Linked DNA regions of Homo sapiens: region 2 is linked to region 1. Evidence: fine-mapped expression QTL. A gene starts in region 1. The other region holds a variant in brackets. All regions are shown on one strand. Distances are from middle to middle. Region 1 holds the start of C1orf220 (chromosome 1 putative open reading frame 220). Region 2 overlaps RASAL2 (RAS protein activator like 2).

Region 1 (8,756 bases):
GAAGAGGTGGGACAGGGTGGCTGAGTGTGTGGGGACCAGAGAAGAGGCAGGAGTGAGTGCGTGCTGAGAACACTCGTGGGTGGGGTGATACCCCCAAATACTTAACCATGGGCCCTGACCCACCAGAATCTGTGCCAGGTAGGACCCTTAGCTGCTAGGTTGTGGGGACACCTGGCCAGTCCTGGGAAAGGACCAGGAGAATGATGGGCAGGTGGCCACTGGGTCGGAGGTGGGGGCAGCTCAGGGCAGCAGCTGTTTACCAACCAGTATGGAAGTGGTTCAATATTTTATTAACTATAAAGGACCCTAAAGAGTGTGCAGTAACAGAATCCTCACCATGCCCGTGGGATGGGGCAGCGACATGGCCGCAACACCCCACCATGAGATGTGAGCTCAGCACTCAGACACTCTGAGGGGATGAGCTGTGTACTTGTCTGCAGGAGGACACAGTCATGAGTCAGAAGCTGCTGTTTTCCTTCCTTGGAAAGGAAGGTACGTTCCAGCATAGTGCAGGGGGCCCCTCAGGCCACCCCAGGCTTAGGGGAAGCTGAGCTGCCTCTATCCTTGCCCAGCCATTCCCAGCTTCCCCCTCTGCAGCCCTGGCCCCACCTGGGCGTGGCTCCCACAGCGGTGTGGGATAGAGAGGCTCTCAGGCTCCCCTGTGAGTCTGACTCCAATTCCTGTTGGTCTTGTAAAGTCAGAAGAAATCCCAGTGATGACAAGAGTATAAAACAAGACTTGTCAAACTTCATTTTGAGCCAGGAAAATCACAGGATTGTCATCGGGACAGGGGTTGTTGTTGTGACCTCTGTAGTTGGTCTGGCTGCTGCATAGTCGCTCTCGCTGAAAGCCACAAGACTTTGCTGGAAGGAAAGCCTTCCTCCCTCGATATGGAGGGCTCCGAGCTTCACAGGCAACCGCAAGGATCTGGCATGTGTCACACAGCAATGCTTCGACAGGCCAGGAATCCCACCTTCAGGGACCCCCAACAGAAGAAGAATCCCAAGTGCTGACACTGTAGAGCAGACGTCAGCTGCAAGCTCAGCACAGCCACTGCAGTGAGAGGTCTTGGTGGAAGCGACAGAGCTGACCTGGCTGACTCGTGCAGGCAATGGACATGGGGAAATATGTGCAGAACTTATCAGTCGGAAGGCTGGAGAACCGCATGGGGAAAATGGGCAGGTATCAAGGCGGCTGGCAGCAGGAGATGCAGGCGAGGCCAAGCTGTGGCCAGGCTGTGGTGAGGATACCGTGGCCGGGACTGCTGCCACAGGACACAGGATGCTACTCTCACAGATGGTCTCCTGGCCTAGCTGCCATGGCCAAAAATAAGTTCTCTTCTGTTCCTGCACCCTAGCCTTCAAAGCCCCACTGGGCTGGGCAGGATAGGAAGGCTGTGACCTCTGCAGGGGTGGGGGACAAGAGGGACACCTGGTTCCTTCCATTCCTTCCATTTCCAGAGGGGCTGATGGATTCCTGCCAAGAGTCACCGGGGAATCCTCCCAAATAGAATGGATGCTGGAAGCTGGACCGCCAAAACAAACAGAACAATAGCAACAAATGCCCATTATATATTGGGGAAGCAATTGTGTCGATGGAAACAATAGAACGAGCTAGTTTTGTCTTTAAACCTAGGAAATAAGGCCAGGCATGGTGGCTCATGCCTGTAATCCCAGCACTATAGGGGGCTGAGGAGGGTGGATCACTTGAGGTCAGGAGTTCGAGACCAGGCTGGCCAACATGGTGAAACCCGGTCTCCACTAAAAATACAAAAATTAGCCAGGTGTGGTGGTGCACACCTGTAATCCCAGCTACTCAGAAGGCTGAGGCAGGAGAATCGCTTGAACCCGGGAGGCAGAGGTTGCAGTGAGTTGAGATCACGCCATTGCATTCCAGCCTGGGCGACAGAGAAAGAGTCCATCTCAAAACGAAAACAAAAACAAAAAACACCAAAAAAACAAATAAATCTAGGAAATAGATGAATAACATCACCTCCCAGGTGAATAAGAGAGCAAAAGACTCTGTGGGTTCATCCTCTCATTCCTCAGGGGAACCATTTCCAAATGAGACATGTACACAGGCAATACCTGCAGGGCGAGCTGCATTCTACATAGACATTCAAAACCGTCTCAATTCAAAACCGTCTCGATTCAGAGGAGTGCAGCTCCTATCTCATGCAGACAGAGAGGGTGGGGTGACTGCATCAGAGGTCTGGTCAGGACTTGAGAGATACAGTGAAATTTGATTGTGGCTGGTGGATGAAGTAAGGTTTGATAGAAATAGAATGGCCCATGCATGTCCTCTGGGGACCCACGGACACCCTGAAATTGTATGCAAAATGTTGCGTGTGTGTTCATGTACTTTTTCTGGAACAAGGTGACAGCCTTTATTGAATCCTCAAACAAAAACAAGCACTGCTCTAGAATAATATTTCCTAAACACACTCATCACCCGACACCCCAAGGCTTGACAGGATGCTCTAAAGTATCCATTTCTGTCCTCATCCGTTCACATGCAGCATTTAATCCCACTTCCCAGCCTTCTGCCCTCTTCTCCTGTCTCCTCTCCATGCTTAACACGCCAGCCCCAGATGCTCCTCCTTGCCACCCAGGGCCTGAGTCATACATCCATCTGCTGAGCTAAATATCTCTACTTGGATGTTTAAAAGGCACCTCAGCCTGAATTCATTCCAACTAGAACTCTTGATTCACACCCCCACGGAAAAACCCCATTCCTCCCCCGGGCTCATCTAGCTCAGTTCACGGCATTTCTCTTTCTGTAAAGCCGGGGAAGTGTGCAGTGGTGAAGTGCTGGGTCCAAATTCCAGCTTTTCCATTTGCTAATGGTGGGACTTTATGCAAACTGATTCAACTCTCTGGGCCTCGATTGCCTCTTCTGTAAAATGTGGGAAGAACTAATTCCTAATTCATAGGAGTGTTATGAAATCTAGACAGGTTAAACTATGTGAAGGGTTTAGAGGAGCGCCTGGCTAACCGTATTAGCCACTGTCATTCTTTTTCTTCCAGTTGCTCAGGACAAATCCTAAGAATGATGCTTATTTCTCTCTTTCCCTCATGCACCACACCCAAGCTCATCAGCAATTCCTGTCCATTCCACCTTCAGATACAGATCACAAATCTGACCTCCTCTCCCCATCTCTGTTGCTACCCTACTCGCCTGGGCCGCATGGTCACTTGTGGTGGTCTCCTAACTGCTCCCCTTGTGTCTACCATGGCCATCATCCCCACACCAGCTCTCCAGGTGGCAGCCAGAGTGATCTTACAAAACCGTAGGTCAGGTCATTGCCCCCTGTCAGACTCAAGCCCATCACAGCCCTTGCTATGCTGACAGGCCCATCCCACCCCAGCCCGCTCCCCCCACCACCTGCCCCCCTCCGCCACCTCACCTGTGCCTTCTGCACGCCTCTCCCACCACTCCCCCTCCCTCCCTTTACTCTGGCCACTCTGAATGTCACTGGTCCTCCTTGAGCCCTCCTGAGCCCTCTGCCCAGAGTAATGCCAGAGTGGAGGCCACAGCTGAAGGCAGAGGCTGTTGGCCTGGGGTGGAGAGGGGAGATTCCTCTGGGTGGAAGGTGACATTGGGCAGCCTTGGATGAAGTGAATACCTGGTGTGGGGAAGCAAAAATAAATAGAGAAACAAACGGATTAATTTTGCTTCTTTCCAGGGACTTGATTTTCTACAAGTGCTGCTCCAAGAGGCTTCTACACCCCCGCAGGGAGGCAAGCACCGTTTTGAGGTGGCCGGGCTGGCGAGGAGGTGCAGACCCCAGCCAGCTGGAGGGGCTCTGCCCTGATGGCGTTCCCACTCCCACCTCATTCGCAGGGCGCCGGGGAGGGCTGCAGGTGTTCTATTCCCACCCGGCTTGCAGCGCAAGGAGGGGAATCGCCTGACACCTTCCCCTTCTCCTCTGCCCCGCTTCCTTTCTCTGCTCCCACAGGTGGAAGTCACCAGCGGAAACAACCCTTCACTGTATGGAGGGCTGGGAGAGAGGGGCCAAGAGGGCCCCGGGAGAGCCACTGGGCGGCAGGCAAGGGGCGGGGCAGTCTCCCTTCCGGCTTCCGGGACCGAAGGGTGAAGGGCAAGGGGAGCTCAGGGAATGAACGAGTGCTCCCGACTAATGTTTAACCCACGACTCCGAGACTCCGACTGGTCACAGTCCTGCAGACCTCCAGGTCCTGCACAGGCGACGCAGCGCTCCACTGGCCCGGAATGCGCACCCCGGGGGAAATGGAAAGTGCCATTGAAATGTCAGATGTCACCGTCTTCATCAGCACTCTTGGAATTTTGGCCAAAGTGGCTTCTTCTTTTGCTGAGACTTGACTCACTCCCGGCAGAGGGATGATAGCGGCCTTGCCCCGAGCGTTTATCCGGCTGCAGGCGTCATTCTTGGTCGCCTGTGTGTCCAGAGCCCCAGCGCAGGAAGGGAGCGCAATTCCCACCGCGCCCGCTGGGTGGCGCTAGCGCCGCACCGTGTCCCGGGATGAGGGGAAACCGCGCTGCCCAGTCAGTACCCCGACGCCCCCGCGCCCCCGCCGGGCCCCGCGCGCTGCAGCCACCGCCTCTTCTCGGCTTCCTCTTGCTTTACAGTAACTCTCCTCCTGGGGAAAAGGCTTTTCACGGAGCAGGCTCGGAGCCTACGGGGCTGGCCTCGGACTGGATGGGGGTAAGGACGGGTGGCGGCGCTCGCGCCGAGCGAACGGAGGGCTCAGGCGGCCGGTGATCAGGGACGGGCTGCGGCCGCCGTCTGGGGTGAGAGGCCCACCCAGAGCTCTGGGCCAGGGCTCGCGGCTCTCGTGCAGATGCTGGGCCGGGAGGTGTGGGGAGGGGGCTTCCCAGGCGGGGCAACCGGAGGGGAATGGGGTGTGCAGGAGGGAGGGGAGGCGTGGAGCGCCCGGCCTGCAGGCACTGGGCGGCGCTCTCCAGCCTCCTCTTCTCCCGCCGGGTGCCTGGTGGCTTGGCCTCCCCTCCAGAGCTTCGCATATCCTGGCGGGAGCCGGCGCTCTCTCTCCATACTTAGGACTTGACCCTTATTCCACACCCGGGCAGGGAATCATTTGCCCAATCCGAATTTGATTTTCTGCTTGTGAGAGGAGAAACTGGTGACAGTGTCGCATGGACACTGTCGGGGAAGCCGAGACGTAGACCTGGAAGCCTGTACCAGAGGCCTTGTGGACAGCTTTGGAGCATGCATCTTAAGGCACACCACCGGTTTCTGCTGCTTTGGCACAGCCACGCAGCACCTAGGATGCTTCTCTGCACGCAGCAGAGGCCTAATCCGTGCACCCTCTGACGGTGTTGGAGGGAGCTGGGGAGCAACATCAGATTAATAGCCCCTGGGCTATTTGTATGACGTGCAGATTTCACCCTCTCATTCTTAAAGGGTGAAAGGCTGCAATTCAGAAAGGCGAAGATGGGGCCCAGGAATCTGCAATCTGCGTGGGGTTTTTTTTTTTTTTATGAAGTCTTGTTCTGTCGCTCAGGTTGGGGTGCAGTGGCGCGATCTGTGCTCACCGCAACCTGTCTTCCAGGTTCAAGCGATTATCCTGCCTCAGCCTTCTGAGTAGCTGGGACTACAGGTGCATGACACCACACCTGGCTAATTTTTGTATTTTTAGTAGAGATGGGGTTTCACCATGTTCGCCAGGCTGGTCTTGAACTCCTGACCTCAAGTGATACGCCCACCTTGGCCTCCCAACGTGCTGGGATTACAGGCATGAGCCACCGCGCCTGGCCAGAGTTTGCATTTTGTTGTTGTCGTTTGTTTGTTTGAGACGGAGTCTCGCTCTGTGGCCCAGGCTGGAGTGCAGTGGCGCCATCTCGACTCACTGCAACCTCTGCTTCCCAGGTTCAAGCGATTCTCCTGCCTCAATCTCCCAAGTAGCGGGGATTAACAGGCGTGCCACCACCATGCCTGGCTAAATTTTTTATTCTTAGTAGAGACAGGGTTTCTCACGTTGGGCAGGCTGGTCTCAAGCTCCTGATCTGCCCGCCTTGGCCTCCCAGAGTGCTGGGATTACAGGTGTGAGCCACCGCGCCTGGCCTGTTTTGTTTTCCTAAATCCAGAAGTTCTGATTCAAGCCTAAACCTGCCACTTCCATTCCCAATCCTCTGAGCTTCATGAGCTCCAGACACAGGGCTGTTAATCACAATTTCTTTAATTCTTTATATCTCTTGTGGAATTAGAGGAGTAGATGTTCTTTCTTTTTGGGAAAAACATTAGAAAATGCCTACATGTCTTTATTGAAAGAACTTAAAAACAATGTATTTCTCTAGGGTTTATTTTCCCTCACGGCTCTCAACCTTCTCAAAATATAAGGTTGGCGGATTAATTATACTGAAAGTCTTCAGTTGGATATTTTATTATAGTATTTTTAAAGTCGTGTTTTGTAATTGCCCTGACAATGTAAGGAATGATATTTGTGAGGGTGAGTCAACAACACCTTCCCTGTTGGTGTCTGCCCTCTAATAACCCCACGGGCTGGATCCCCAGCACCTGGAAGGAATCATCATGGAACGTTAATAAGGAGGAAGGCTGGTTCTGGCGCCTGGAACACTTCAGAGACAGAAAGCAGTGACTAGGCCAGACAGGCCCGTTGTTTTTGCGCTTTGAGAGAGAAGTGAGAAATGGAAAGTAGTCTCTTTATCTTCTCAGCAAATACAGCCTATGCTCAGAATTTCTCCGACTTCCCATCTCTGAGATGCCGGATGCCCAGTTCCACAGAATCATGGCAAGCGAGAAACTGTCGTTCATAAGAGTTCAAGAAAATGAATATTCTCTCAACTCTGTGAGGGCCAGTGGGTTCCAGGCGAGATGAGACAACTTGGTGAGCGTCGTAACTGAGCTCCCAATGCATTTAGAAGCCTCTGGATGGCCGGGGGGTGCATTCCAGCTGTGCTGGAAAAATTATATTTTGAAGTTAAATCTGGTAGTGTTTTTTCCAATATGAATAGGCCTCAGGAAAGAGATAATACATTTCCTTCTTTGTTCAGAGGGTGCTCAACTTGCTGGAGTCATCTCTGCTATGGCTTTATTTGCCAACAACAGAGAACTTGCTCTGCAGCAGCCCCAGGCTCTCTGGGGACCCCACAGGCTATGCAGATCCCCCACCCCAGAACCACAGAAGGAGACAGAGCAGAAGCACACCCCGTCTTCCAGGCCCAGGACAGCTGCTGAGCTCCAGGACACGGACTCTTGAAGGTTGATTTTGACTACTTACTAAGCTCCAGCTGAACCAGTTCCACTTCTTTAACCTTCCCATGATCCCTGTGAGGGGTCTGTGGTATTGCTATTTGCAAGTAAAGAAAGTGAGATTGAGGGAGGCTGAAAGACTTGGCCCCAAGTCACAATGCCCTGCTGAATGTGGTGCTGCCTCCTGGATATCCTGGGTGCTTCAACATCAACAGCTCTTGGCAAGTGAGTGGGCCACGAAGGATGGACGAGGGACATGGGGGAGCAAGCCCAGCTGCACGGTTCCAGCTCTTTCCGCCACATCACAGCTTCTGCAGTTGGGAAGACTGAACAGTGATCTTCAGTTTGTTCGTCAAAGGGCCAAGAAATCTGTGTCCTCACCTTCTCTGCTTCAATTCTGGTGCTGCTTAAGCCGATTATCATTTCATGCCCTAAACCAAAAAATAAACTCTACAAACATCAACATTACATAGGACAGGATCTGGCCCACAGGTAAGAAAAGCACCTACAAGAGAGCTGCATGGAGCTGTGGGTGCATTTCCTGTTACCACCAGGGCATCCCAGAATGCTGACAAAGAGAAAACTAAGACCTTCCCACTCTGATTTGTTACATGTCATAACACCAAGCAAGTGACAGAGGAGACAATTATGGGGCCCAGAGGAAGGTGCCTGTATCATGTAGACAAAATCCAAAGCAGCTTGTTTCAGACAAAACATTTTGCTTTGGAAACTTTTGAAACTTCCATGGCCGTTGAATATAGCAGAGATGATCTAAAAATTTTAGAAGCGGTTGAGGTACCCGTGGTAGGGGCAAGGCATGGGAGTGGTGATCCTTAAGGGGCTTGTCTTTAGTTTGAGGGCCACACACAGAGGAGGTGGGCAGAAAACTGAGGTCTCCCCAGAGCAGCTTTCCAGACAAAAAAAATAAAAAATGACCAAGAAAATACCTGATATAATTGACAATGCCATGAAATGAAAAGTTTATCATAAATTCTAATAAAAACTACAATGGGCTGGGCGCAGTGGCTCATCCCTGTAATGGCAGCAGTTTGGGAGGAGGAGGCCGGAGGATTGCTTGAGGCCAGGAGTTTGACAGCAGCCTGAGGAACAAAGTGAGACCCTATCTGTATTTTAAAAATATACTTTAAAAAATATTTTTAAAAAACAGCAGATGGATATCCCTACTGCATTTGAGACCTGGTTTCGGTTCGACCTCCTCTGGGGAAGCTCACAAGCAACACTAGAATCTCAGCTCTCTCTGTTCGCTGATGTCATCTGAGATTTTTCTTTTTTTTTTTTTTTTTTTGGCAATGGAGTCTCGCTGCGATGCCCAGGCTGGAGTCTAATGGTATGATCTCAGCTCACTACAACCTCCGCTTCCCTGGATCAAGCAATTCTCCTACCTCAGCCTCCTGAGTAGCTGGGACTACAGGCGCGTGCCACCATGCCCAGCTAATTTTTGTATTTTTAGTAGAGACCAGGTCTCACCCTATTGGCCAGGCTGGTCTTGAATTCCTGACCTCAAATGATCCACCCACCTCGGCCT
Region 2 (8,756 bases), 440 kb before region 1:
CGTTTGTCCTTTGACCATCCAGATCTCAACCTGACTGACTGTATGGGTGGTAGAGTAGCTTAAACAAAGGCATGCCACAAACAGCTAAATATGGATACAGAATCCAAGAGCATCAAATGCAGAACATTTTTCAGATATTTATAGCCTCAAAGCAAAGTCAATTGGCTGAAAAAGCTCAGCAGCATAGCGAAAGGAAACGGGAGTGGCAAAGCCAGCCTCACTGTCTGTGCTTTCTGGTAAACAATGAGAACATTAAAATTAAATACTTTACCATGAATGGATGGGGAGTGTAGGACACTCTGGGAGAAATTTAAGATCCCAATCTCTAGGATTGCCTGCGGTGGAGCTCTGCACTCATCAGTATGACAGGTCTGCAAGTATGTGCTCAGATATGCTCTTGGAGAGTTAGAAGGGAAATATAATCAGCACAAGAAAGGGATCAACAAGAAATCTTGTACTTTTAAATTTTAATATTATCAGAAGGAATTAGGTAAAATATTCTGTTAAGAAAATGAATAGCATCAACATTATTACCATTAAGCTTGTATACAGCTCATTGTTTATTGATAACAACATAGGGACCTGCTGGAAAATTTCAAAGGGCTAGTACTATTTAAGCAAACAGAAGAAAAAGGGAATTAATCATACTTCATTAAGTACCTTATAATTCCAGAAATGTGGCAGTGGGAATTCGGTAAGAATTAATAGAAGTTCATATTCAAGAAGTGAATATGAGCTGATGAGACAGAAGTCATATCTGGTTGTATTATATGATACTGCTTACGCCTCACCAATTAAGACACAGGATGAGATTTTTAAAAGTTACGTTTCTAGAGGTTATGTCTCTAAATTTATTTAAAATGTTGCAACTAGTATGGCTAGAAGAAAATCAGTGAGTGTGTATAAAATACATCCCCAAACATGTTCATGTTCCTTAAATGTCTTAATTTCCTCAGGTACTGTTAATTGAATCTTTACACCTGAGTAGTCATATTTTAGAAATTTTTGGAATCTTAAGCTTGAGTTCAATACTTAGGATGTGGCATAGGCTTGTTGATGTATTAGTTTCCAATGATTTCCAAATACATTAAAACACATTAAGAATAGACAGTTTTTCATTGAAATCAGAGAGAACTTCTAAGAATGCCTAGGCATGTACTGTTTAAGTGACTTTAAATAGCCCCCTTTTTTCTTCTTTTGAGAGAAAATTTGTATGTCTTATTTAAATTGTGTGCTCTATTAATGTAGGTGATAGTTTCATTTATAACATCTTAGTATTGTTCTACCCTCTATCATGTTGGTTCACTGCTATTTGATTTTCAAACAGTGAAAATATTTTTAAGGAATAGAATTATACATCCACAATCTCTTTTCCAAAACCATTTGGACTAGACAGTTATGTTAATATTTCTGCAGTTAAACAAGTGAATAGGCCGGGCGTGGTGGCTCACGCCTGTAATCCCAGCACTTTGGGAGGCCGAGGCAGGTGGATCACTTGAGGTCAGGAGTTCAAGACCAGCCTGGCCAACATGGTGAAACCCCGTTTCTACTAAAGTACAAAGAAATTAGCCGGGTGTGGTGGCATGCACCTGTAATCCCAGCTACTTGGGAGGCTGAGGCAGGAGAATCGCTTGAACCAGGGAGGGGGAGATTGCAGTGAGCTGTGATTCCACCGTTGCACTGCAGCCTGGGTGACAGAGTGAGACTATCTCAAAAAAAAAACAAAATCATACCAAGTGGTATAAAGACTATAAATAGCCTTATGTCAGTGCAGGTCAGACTTTACTGCCAGAAAAGTTGCATACAGTCTTTTGCTTTTCAGAGCTTTTTTGATTTAGGAATTGCAGATATGGAATTGAGGATCTGTACAAATCTTCAGACATAAATAATACAAAGTTCTAGAACACCCCTCTTTAAGAATAGTTTGTGTGGATATCCTTTATCTTTTTCAGATAATAACATTTACTGAACACATTTTTAAAAATGGGCCGGGCGCGGTGGCTTATGCCCATAATTCCAGCACTTTAGGAGGCCAAGGTGGGCGGATCACCTGAGGTAAGGAGTTTGAGACCAGCCTGGCCAACATGGTGAAACCTTGTCTCTACTATAAATACAAAAAAAAAAAAAAATTAGCAGGGCATGGTGGCACATCTGTAATCCCAGCTACTCGGGATGCTGAGGCACGAGAATCGCTTGAGCCCAGGAGGGAGAGGTTGCAGCTAGCTGAGATCGTGCCACTGCACTCCAGCCTGGGCAACAGAGCGAGACTCAGTCTCAAATAAAAAAAAAAAAAAAAAGTTGTACAGTTGTGTTTCCTACTATAGTGAGTGAAATTTCTGTGGTTTGCTAAGAAAAAGAAAAGAGATTCACATGACATAGTAGGCTTTACCAAGATTATTAAGGAAATGGTGGCAAGGTAGTGGTTTCGGATCCTTTGTTTCATTAGAAGGAAGGATGAGGTAAGTTGAAATAGAGGGTTTATGTAATTGTTCTTTGCAGTTGCTTTCTTCAGTAGCACAAAGTGATTTGATCACCTTTTAAGTAGGTGAACCACAAAAAAGCATTCAACTAATGACAGTTAATTCAGAAAAACTTCAGCTGTTTGCTCCCTTGTCCCTCCCTATTGGAAAAACTTTTAACTAACTAGAGAGTTGTTTGGTCTTGTTAACCAGGAGGAGGAGTTTGAAGTGTGCTAAGGGCACTGCTAAAATTGCTTCACCCTATCTTGGTAGAGGGATAATTGCTGTCTGATGTTTGTAAAAACACCTTTCTTCCCAAAGGCTGTCAAGTACTTCTTAAGGCTAGCATGTAGAAAACCCTTTTGCAAATTTCATGTAGTTTATTTTATAGTGAGAGGGCAGCCCATCAAGAAGTAATGTGGTTCACAAGTAGAAGGGAAAAGAGAAGTCTTGAGGCCCAGTGCAGTGGTGTTAGTGAGTATACAGTAAACAAAAGAAATAAAAATTGAACCCTTAAAGGCATAAAAACATTTCATTTGCTAGACTATGATACAGAAGTTATCACTTTCCTAATCTCTACAGCTGGGTTCAGATATGAGCTGTCTGAATTTTACCTTCCCTTACCAGGTGTTAGTAACATCAATTAATTGTCTTTGTTGGCTTTGCTCATAAGGGTTCAGTTTAGATCCTGATTGTATTTTTACCCCTCCATAAATTATCTTCAACATTGCTCGAGTTCCATTCACATTGTGTCACTTGTAGCAGACTTTCTAAAAGTACCCCTTACCTCCATCCCTGAGTCTAAGGGATTGGTAATACTTATAGATATTGATTGAGAGAGTGAAAATTTAGTGAGGGGAAAACATTCAACATAGATAAGATAACAAAATTCGGAAGAGTAGTCTGAAAAGTTAAAATGAAACCTTAAAGTCAATAGTTTTTGATATTTTTCAAAGCAATCCTTTAGGTTTTCTCATTGAAGAAACTGGCTCAGGAAGTTTAGCTTATTCCCAAAATTGGAGACAGACTCCACAGTTTGTCAGGATTGGAACTCTTAACCTCAGATTCCTTAGCCTCCTGATTTAGCTTCTAGATCTTGCTGCCTTCCCTTAGGGAGATGGCCTCTCAAAGCTGAAGGTCAGGAAAACTCGACAGTGAGAAATACCAGATTGTTAGTTTCACAGTCTTTTAAGGGAAATGCTGGAAATACCATTACCTAGGTAACAGAAAACAAAAATGGACAAAACATCCATAAAGTAGGAGGATGAAAATAATTTCATAGTAATCCTTAAGAGATAGACCAGAGGACAGATGAGATTTTTTTTTTC[A/G]TATTTTTCCTAAGCTTATTATGCATACTTTTTTTGGTGCTGTGATTGGAAGTGATGTCTGAAGGAAATTTGAATTTCATATATGATGCTTAGAACCCTGAATAATACCTAATAACTTTGTACCTTCCACTTGAATTTCTAACCTCTGATTCCTGTCATTAAAAATTAATACCCTTTTTCTGATTATGAATATAATTTGTGCTTAACATAAAGAATTAGAATTTTAGGAAAAGCCAAAATTAAAATCATTTGTAATTCTACCTCTTAGAGATAACTATCATTTTTTTTTAAATATTATATTTTAGAGACGGGGTCTCATTCTGTTGCCAAGGTTGGAGTGCAGTGGCGCAATCATAGCTCATGCCCAGGTTGGAGTGCAGTGGCGCAATCATAGCTTACATATTATCCATTGCCTGGGTTCAGGGGATCCTTCCACCTCAGCCTCCCGAATAACTGGGACTACAGGAGTGTGCTACCACACCTGGCTGAGATAATTATTCTTTTAATATTTTATTGTGTTTTATTCCAGTCTTTTTTGTGTACAGATTTTTTTGTATTAATACATATTTGGTATCAAACTGCATATATTTTACATTCTACTTTTTTTCTCTTAAGTGTATTTTCTCATGTTATTGAAAACATTAACACATTTTTTTAAATATGTTATTTATTTTAAAAAATAGGTAATATATTCCTTTGTTCCAAAATTCAGAGTATAAAAAGATATTCCATGAGCTCTCTCTTACTCTTCCTCCCTGCCTCTACAACTTGCCATCTGGCAGGCATGGTCCCTCTTCCCAATCAATAAATACTTGAAATTGTTATGTATCTTTCCATACCTATTCCACGTGCATAGAAGCAAATGTAGAGATAGATAGATATGTAAAAATCCTGCCATAAGTGGGATCCAAGAAATCTAGTTTACAAAAAATTCAGGGTTATATTTCTGTGAGGTTAGTGAAATGACCAGAACAAACCTGCAAATGAAGTTGGCCATGAGTTCTGGGGGTCTGGAGCCGGTAAATTGCTTTATATCTGAAATGATATCATAGGTTTTTACTGTATATATGCATTTTTCTCTATTTTTACACGTATGATAACCCATTAGAACTGATTTTTATCTGCACTTTGAGATTGCTTCTTCTTTCTTCCCCCCGCCCCTCACTTATTAATGTATCTCAGATATATTTTCCTTTCATTTTGTAAAGAGGTACCTCATTCTTTTTATGGCTGCATAATGCCTGAATTAATCATAACTCATTTAATTATTCCCCAAGTTTTGCTAGTTCAAGTGATTTTGCAGTGAATGATCTTGAGTATAAGCCATTTTGCTTGTGTATGAGCATATCTGTAAGAAAAATACATAGAATTGCTAGGTCAAAGGTACGTGTATTTGTAATTTTGAAAGATATTGCCAAATTGCCCTACCTGTCTGTACTTCGCCCGCAATATATGAGAGTGCCTGTCTCCCCACACATAATGAATTATCACGAAATTTTGGATCAGACAATCTGAAAGGTAAAAATGGTGTCTTAATTTAATTTTTTTTAATATCTTTTACATTAAGTGTGATTGAACATCTTTTCATTTTTAAGAGTCATTTAAATATAACCTTTTCTGTGAACTGTACATACCTTTTGCCCATTTTTATTGGGTTCTTGGATCTTTTTCTTAGTGATTTGTAGGAACTATTAGTATATTAAGCAAAGCATACTAAGGAACTCTTAGTATTTAAGTAAAGAACCCTTTATCTGCAACAGTTGCCAGTATTTTCATTTTTCTTATGGTATTCCCCCCACCCTTATGAAGAAATGATTCTTACACAATTGAATGTATCGGATTTTTCTTTTATGGCTTTTTGGTTTTATGTCAGAATGTATTTTATGTTAGAATGGGCTTTCCTGGGAGTTCTCTGGACCTTTATTTTGTAACCTCAGAATAGGAAAGCCCATTCTTTTTTTTTCCCCCTCTACATACACTAAGTACCTAAATACCCTTGGGGGACAAAAAAAAGAGTGGGCTTTCCTGTTCTGAGGTTATGAAATAATTCTCTCTTGGTTTATCTAGTACTTCGTTGGTTTTATTTTTTACATTCAAATCTTTAATCCAGTCTGGTATTAAATATGAGATATGGATCCAATTTCATTTTTTGAAAGATGGCTTTCCAGTTGTCCTACCATCATTTGTTGAAGAAACCAGCTTTTTCGCACTGATTTAAGAAGACTTCTTTATTCTATACAAGATTGCCATTTATATTTTGGGTTATTTCAAGATTTTCTATTCTGTTCTATTGGTCTGTTTATATTCATGTGCCAGTATCACACAGCTTTATTGTTGAGACTTTATAATATGAAAATACAATTTTTAATGACTAACATTATTTAACCATTATTCTATTTTAGATGTTAACATTTTTCAAAAAGTTTAACACTTTACTGATTTGTCTTTGTGCACAAATCTTTGATCCAAACTTCTGAATGTTTTCTTATGCTGAATTCCTAGAAGAGTATGAAATGTTTTTAAAGGCCTGAGATTTAGTGCGAAATTGGTGAAACCTTCCTGGAAAGTAATTCCTGCCTCTAGTATGTGAAATATGGCTCATAATTTTAAGTTCTACTGCTGTGTTGCTACTTTCAATGTATTAAAATCTTTTTACATAAATTTTATATAATACCTTAAACGTTACTTAGCACATATTAAATGCCTTGAGTCTTTATGCCTTTAAGACTGTCCTTCAAAAACTTAGTTGTTGTTTAAATGGTACTCCTTTTTATTAATGGCATATTTCCAAGTGAATGAGGGAAGGGCGGGAGTATAGACTCAAAGCAATTGGTCTGCTAAAGGTCAAATCCATGACCGTGACCTTACTTGTATTATGTCAGACCCTCCAACTGAAATAACTTGATGCAGACATATGTTTTAGGTATTCTAAGAAGCACACAGTTGGTAACTTTTATCTCAGCTAGAAGGAGTTGACATTCATGAAAGTTATTTTGAACATGATTTGAATATAGTTTCATTTAGTTTTACCTGGATGAGTGATTGAGTTGTATGTCTTATATAATACTGTGTTAATGACCCAGTTTTATAGCATGGGATTAATTTAGGTATGTTCTGAGGAAAGTTTTTCATAATGTTAAACAAAGCCAAATCCAAGTAATGGCAACAAGAACTAATATTAATGATTAAAGTAATTTAAAATCTTTTCTTCAGAAAAAATAATGGCAGGAATAGGAATAAGACTATGGAAAAAATCATATTTTATATAGACCGTTAACAAAGTTAACCAAATTTTCTTTTACCATTTAGCTGTTTAGCATGTAATACATAAGCATAAGCTTGTCTTGCTAGGCCAGAAAGGAGCAAACTTAGAAAAAGAACAAACTGTTTTTAACTTTTAACAATGACTTAAAGTAGTTTGAAAGTGAAATGAAAAAATAATCCCTTATCCAGTTAATACTCTGGAGGTTTGTAGGAAAATTTGTTTAATTCGGGCAGGATAGAATATGCAAATATCTTGCTCCATAAATAAGTACTAAATAATGAAGACATATGAAGGATATGATACAGTGGGAAAGTATGGCAGTATTTTTGTCAGTTTTTGAAGTGTATGAAATTACTAGACACATTCTCTTTTTGTTTTTTGGGGTTCTTTTTTTTTTTTTTGAGACGGAGTCTTGTTCTGTCACTCAGGCTGGAGTGCTGTGGCTCTATCTTGGCTCACTGTAGCCTGGACCTCCCAGGCTCAAGGGATCCTCCCACCAAGTAGGTGCTACTTCAGGTGTGCACCACTGCGCCCAGCTAGTTTTTTGTTTACTTTTTGTAGAGACGAGGTCTCACTGTGTTGCCCAGGCTGGTTTTGAACTTCTAAGCTCAAGCAATCCTCTTGCCCCAGCCTTCCAAAGTGCTGTGATTATAGGCATGAGCTGCTGTACCCAGCCACGTTTTCTTTTTGAACTCAGTAAAAATCAATTGTAGTTTTAAAGCATTTTACTAATTTAGTTCATGGAAACATGAAATCGCTGTAGATGACAACATTATTGTTAGGAGTTAATCTATAACTCTGTTGCTCTGAGGGATACACTGACAAGGTGAAGATTATTCTTGTTTTGTTTTTCTGTTCTTGTAATGAAATTTTTTTAATGTCATATTTTATGTAATAATTTTCCAAAAAGGATAGCATGTACACTATCTCCAGGGTAGTGACTGACAGCATAAAAAATCTCTTTGCCTGGCTATAATCTATATTTGCATGTTCCAGTTTGTGCTGAAGTATAGCATATCCACAATTCCTAGATTTCCCTCCATGGTTCCCTTAGGCTTGACTGTGTACAACTTTATGTGTATTTGTAAATTTCAAGACTGCCCTTGAGTGAGGAAACCCAAGGCCTTTCTGTTGCATGTTCCTATTTTGAAATGGCTGCTTTTTGTCCAAGTGGTTGCTGATTACTCTGTATCAACGTATGGACCTTGAATAAGATGGTCAGTACAGTAGCTACCAAGTAACGAAAGATATGTTGTAATGTCTAAAACAATGACTTTGCTTTTAATGTTGTCTAGTTTTATAAAGACTTCATGGTTTTCCTTTTTATAGAAAATAAAATTTATATTCCTGTTTTTGAATCTAGCTTGATAACATGATTAAGAAAAAATGGTATCATATGGTGATTTCTATTGAAATAGAAAGATACCCCAGATACAGTCGATTTCTTCCTGTTTTGTTCAGGTCAGAAAGTCTTCAGTCATTCTTTTGCAAGTTCAACCAAAATAAGCTTAAGAGAACATTTTCAGTTATTTGCATTTTAGGTTGTAGTTTTGGTCTATACTGAGATTGTCATGCCAGAGTGTCACCTTGAGAGAGGCTTGACTTTGTAATATCTATTAGCTGATCATCTTTCTTTTCCTGTAGCTTAACTAGCATAATAAATTTCCTCATATATATCCAGTAATATTATTCTGTTTACCTGTG

The links. PIP is the estimated chance that this variant, and not a neighbour inherited with it, causes the effect. A credible set is the group of variants that fine-mapping cannot tell apart.
Region 2: its variant is the best candidate, but not a certain one, in a credible set for the expression of C1orf220 in sun-exposed skin (GTEx, PIP 0.67).

The regions. Positions count from the first base shown.
Region 1 is chr1:178,538,202-178,546,957 of GRCh38, forward strand. C1orf220 (chromosome 1 putative open reading frame 220) reads left to right here and starts at 4,595. Exons shown (of 3, transcript NR_033186.1): 1 at 4,595-4,684; 2 at 7,012-7,702. LOC124904460 (a long non-coding RNA gene) reads right to left here and starts at 4,444. Exons shown (of 2, transcript XR_007066748.1): 1 at 3,833-4,444; 2 at 2,362-3,625. RefSeq lists an enhancer at 4,290-4,349 and silencers at 4,400-4,729, 4,760-4,829.
Region 2 is chr1:178,098,248-178,107,003 of GRCh38, forward strand. The region is part of intron 1 of RASAL2 (RAS protein activator like 2); the gene reads left to right. Among named protein-coding and RNA genes, the nearest start is that of RASAL2, 8.5 kb to the left of the region's middle. The variant A/G (reference allele first, on the strand shown) is at 3,788.